Linked DNA regions of Homo sapiens: region 2 is linked to region 1. A link means that fine-mapping ties the variant in region 1 to the expression of a gene that starts in the linked region. Tissue or cell type: hypothalamus. Region 1 holds a variant in brackets; the other region holds the start of a gene. All regions are shown on one strand. Distances are from middle to middle.

Evidence for each region. PIP is the estimated chance that this variant, and not a neighbour inherited with it, causes the effect.
Region 2: GABRA6-AS1 starts here. The variant in region 1 is fine-mapped to the expression of GABRA6-AS1 in hypothalamus (GTEx, PIP 0.93).

The regions. Positions count from the first base shown.
Region 1 is chr5:160,781,691-160,784,458 of GRCh38, reverse strand. All of the region lies in intron 2 of ATP10B (ATPase phospholipid transporting 10B (putative)), which reads left to right. Among named protein-coding and RNA genes, the nearest start is that of ATP10B, 69 kb to the left of the region's middle. The variant T/C (reference allele first, on the strand shown) is at 1,449.
Region 2 is chr5:161,688,188-161,690,687 of GRCh38, reverse strand. GABRA6-AS1 (GABRA6 antisense RNA 1) reads left to right here and starts at 1,278. Exons shown (of 2, transcript NR_189170.1): 1 at 1,278-1,428. GABRA6 (gamma-aminobutyric acid type A receptor subunit alpha6) reads right to left here. Exons shown (of 9, transcript NM_000811.3): 4 at 1,519-1,739; 5 at 1,352-1,434; 6 at 909-1,052; 7 at 335-487.

The DNA of each region.
Region 1 (2,768 bases):
GCAGATACCAACTGCTTAAGAAAATCCTCCACCTGCCTGAAAAGGCATCAACAGGAAAAGAAAAGCTAAAAATTAGTTTTTTAGATAAGAATTTGAGTTGTTGCCTGAAAATTACCTGCAGTAGTTCATTCTATTAAAAAGGACTCTCAAATTCATTGTCCCAAGCATTGCTTACCACCATTCAAGTATAGGCAATTGCTTTGTGCAGCCAAAAGAAGATAATTTTGCAAGATCTCACCATTCAGTTTTAAGAGTCTCCTGTGAGCTGTGTATGGCCTTATATTTGGTCATTTATAGGAAATAATCCAAGAGTTTCAGAAAGACTTTTCTGTCTCAAAATCTGTCTTTTATTGATCTGCCTCAAAGATCCACACCACTTGGGCTTCGAAGCTTTGAGCTATAGTACAAATATGCTACCTGGCCAAGGTGGATTAAGCTATTATTATTTTCCTCAATTTCAGTTCCCTGATGAGCCGCGATGATAAGTGGGACACAGGATGTGTATATGCATAGAGGCAAGTCCTTCTGCAAGAATGGCCATAATCAAAAAATGAAAAAACAATAAATGTTGGCTTGGAGGCGGTGAACAGGGAACACTTCTACACTGCTTGTGGGAAGGTAAACTAGTACAACCACTATGGAAAACAGTGTGGAGATTCCTTAAAGAACTAAAAGTAGAACTACCATTTGGTCCAGCAATCCCACTACTAGGTATCTACCCACAGGAAAAGAAGTCATTATACGAAAAAGATACTTGCACACACGTTTATAGCAGCACAATTTGCAATTGCAAAATCATGGAACCAACCCAAATGCCCATCAATCAGTGAGTGGATGAAGAAACTGTGGTGTGTGTGTGTATGTGTGTGTGTGTGTGTGTGTGTGTGTGTGTGTGTATCATATATATATGATATATATATCAACCATATATATCACCCATATATATAGTATATATATGATATATATCGATCATATATATGATGGAATATATATATGATATATATATATATATGTGATGGATATATCTATCCATGGATATATCCATGGATAGATATATCCATCACATATATATATATATGATGAAATACTACTCAGCTATAAAAAGGAATGAATTAACAGCATTTGCAGTGACCTGGATGACACTGGAGACTATTAGTCTAAGTGAAGTAACTCAGGAATTGGAAACCAAACGTCGTATGTTCTCACTGATATGTGGGAGCTAAGCTATGAGGACACGAAGGCATAAGAATGATACAATGGACTTTGGGGACTTGGGGTGAAGAGTGGAAGGGGGACAAGGGATAAGACTACAAATATGGTGCAGCGTATACTGCTTGGGTGATGGGTGCACCAAAATCTCACAAATCACCACTAAAGAACTTATGTAACCAAACTGTACCACAATAACTTATGGAAGAAAATAAAAAATTTCCTTTGAATTAAAAAGT[T/C]CTCCTGGAGGAGGCATACAACTTACATGTGTATATGTAATTTGTAATATATGTGTATATATACTTCTATATAATGGAAATACCTGTTATGTATAAACACATAACACATATGAATACAATGTTACATAGTGAGATCCTTTTATACAAGCTATTCTCAAACCCGCTTTGTGAACTCAATATTATAGATATCTTTCCTTTGTAGTTTGTGTGTGTGTGTATGTACATGTCATTTTTTGCCATTGATTAGTATTGCACCTCAGGAATTAATGATAATTTCTTTACTCAATCCTCTTTTAAACTATACCTGTCATTCTTAGCTATATCATCACTATTTTTAATTACATCAAAACATTCTTCTGCACAGAGATATTTCTCTGCACATATTGCTGTCTCTTTAGTAAGCTCCTTGAAGAGTCATTGCTAGGTCAGGTATGGGAGGGAAGAACCATAGAGGACTAGAATATTGATACTGCATGATCCCTTCTGGGGGCTCAGATACGCCTGTGAGGCTGGGCTCCTAAAGTGAGTGAGTGTGTGTGTGTGTGTGTGTGTGTGTGTGTGTGTGTGTGTGTATGGAGGAAGAAAATGGGAACAAAGTGCAATAAATGTAAACTTTGCTGATGCCACATTTTTACACCGAGTTGTTACAGAACAATAAGAAAACTGCTGTTATTGCAGACAACCGTTAGATTTGTTTTAGTGTTTACTTCAGCAACGTCTCTCTGTGCCTTGTCTAAACTGTAAACACCCTGTGGGCAGGAGCCAGTTCTGGTGGTTGTTGCTGTTACTGACCAATATATACCAAGTGTTTAATATATTTACATTACTGCGTTTCAACATTTTTTGGTGAAAGAGTGAATAAATTATATAGAAAATATTTCCTGAAAGGAAGAGATTTGCAAGAAACTTCCTAAAGAGTGGCATTTCTAGGGAATCTATTATCTTCCCAATCTCCTTACTCAACCCCCAGTATCTCTTTTGTATATAATACTTTCTATCCCACAGCAATTGAAATGTAGAACCATACAATTTTAGGCATTACTCTACTGTTTTAAGGCAAAAAATAATTCTGCCTCAGAAAGTATTGTATAAGGAGCAGGTTGTAGTAAATGGACCATCCTTGTCAGTCAAGAGTTTATCTTTAATGTAAACCACTCAACCCTGGCCTCAAGGTCAACCTATTTTTATGGCCAGCATTTGATTTATTTTTATATTTTACTTCCATTTTTAAACAAGATAGGTTGCTGTGCAATTATGAAAATTAAAGTAGGAATAAACTTGGACATGTGACTTTATACTGAATTCTATAGATTGCAAAAT
Region 2 (2,500 bases), 910 kb before region 1:
TTAATCTTTTGCTTTCATGGATTTACATGCAGTTTTTAACTTTCTGCTTTTCCTCAGTTATGACAAAGAAAATCAAGATAAAGCACTGCAAATAGGACACATGAAAGTCATAGGAAACCAGCCATAATTCTCACTGAGACAAAATTTTTTTTGATTCATCACACAATTTGTGATATAATGACAGTGATTTTGCATGATACATATGTCTGGATGAGACAGGAACCTATTTTCTTTGTGGATTGAAAAAGTGCACCAGTGTAAATATTTACTCAAAATACACAAGCAATGAAAGGTGGAGGATGAATGTACGTGAAGTACAAAATGTGACATATACCAAAAACAGTTCTTGCTGGGACGGACTCCTTATTAATCCAGAAAGACACCTGGGAAAGAATGACTGTCATAATGCAAGGAGTGTATATCTGTATCATGAAGTAGCCCATCTTCCTTTGCAAGTGGAAGTAAACTGTCATTATAACGTATTCACCTGTTGGAAGACACATACATCAGTATTATTACTGCTGACAGTCTGCAAAAAGAATGCAGTTGAATATAAATCTTGACAACTTTTAAATTAACATTGACTGGAAGAAAACAAGCAAAGGTACATTTCAGTATATGAGAAAGCTACTTGATCAGCAGATGATAGAGCGAAGAGACACATCAACTTATTGTTTTCAGTAGGGTTCTTTATATCATATACATAAAAAAAACTACTTATTCCAAGATTACACAAATCTTTATATGCACCTGGTTGCAAAATCAGTTTTAAGGAAAGCTACTCATCACTGCAAAACAGCATGCTTAGCTGAGAATGGCTAAGGCGAAGGAAAAAGAAATAGATATTTTGAAAATGTGCACTGGAGTCATCCTGAGGGATTATTTCCATCCTTTGGTCAAATTCTTACCTGTGTTAGATTTAATTGTCTCACTAGATACTGTTTGTCCAATCAGATCATACTGGAGAAGGCTTGAAGATTCTTCTGGGACTTCTACTGAGTAAAGTGGTCCTTTTTTCCACGTATATATGATTTCACTTTTGGGATAAGCATCTAAATATTTGAAACAAATTAAATATAGCAGTGAATTTGACGAGTTGTCTTTTTTTCCTTCAAAGTGCACATTGTCTATAAAAAAGGAAATACAAACATAGATTGTATTTAATGTTTTCTTTAATCTTGGTGACTAAAGCCTCAATTTATGAGATTGACAGAATGATTAAGTATATTCCTAGAATCACACTGATAGTGTCATGATTCTATTTCTTCCTTGATTTCCAGTATCAACTAAAACCAAGTAATTATATATTTTGGATGTATTATTTGACTCTCAGAAGCCTGTTGTAACTTACAGCTCCCAAACTTGAGTGGACAAGCATGCCCATCCATAGGAAAGTTAACCAGCCTCATGGGACAGTCAGCATTGATGGTAAGCCTAGAAACATTGAAATCAACGGTTCTGAGTTAGTATTATGGACATATCATTTAGGCAGGGGAAATAGAATTGGAGAAACCTCACCTCATGGTGTATAAAATGGTTCCATTCTGCATTATTCTGAAGAGTTTATTAGGAGTTGTCATGTTGTGAGCAATGGACTTTTTACCATTTCTGAAAAAGGTGTCAGGCGTCCAGATTTTACTGACCATCAAATTATTCAGACTCAGAATCTCAGTTGGCCCCCCAAACTTCAACCTCTCATCAGTCCAGGTCTGGCGGAAAAAAACATCCATCGTATACTCCTAAGAGAAAATAAAATATTTGTGTGGGCTGGAAAGATAGTTTGCTAAGAATAGTTTATTCACTAGCCTATACACCCAATCTCAAAACTTAAGCAATAAAGCAACTTTTTATCGCAATAATTTCTCACAAAGCTATAATTTTAGCTAGTTATTATTGTTCTCAAACTCAGAAAGTTTGCATTGTTATAAAAGATAGTGCTGTGATATGTAAACTTCCCTCCTCCACCTTGACTTTCCTTAATATTCTTCCTCTTTATCTATCCAGTCATCCATATTTCCATCTATCAATATGTCCTTCTTAATCTAGAAAAAAAATATGGAAATATTTAGTTTAGCCTTTGTGCTGGCTGGCCTTTATACCATCGGTTAGACTAACTATTCCCCTTTGCACCTCATTCACCCTCAAAGGTATTTCAGAGCTTCAGAGTACCATTCAGTAAAATTCCACACATAGATAAACCTTACTTGATAAACACACTATAGCTGCACATCAAAATTATTTTATATTGTTCTCAGGGAACATATAAACAAGTGTTACCGTGACTATTCTAAAGAGGGTATCATTTAAGTATGTATCATCAAAATTATGACTTAATCTGTGGCTTTTATGAAATAGCATTAAAATGTTTAAGAATTATAATAAGAGCTATTGCAAAAGTCAATAACAAATAACAACTTGTAATTATATCAAAGTATTGCCAATAATTGCTTTGCCTACTATATAAATTCCTTTATGAAACGTATTATGGCAAGCAGTGATT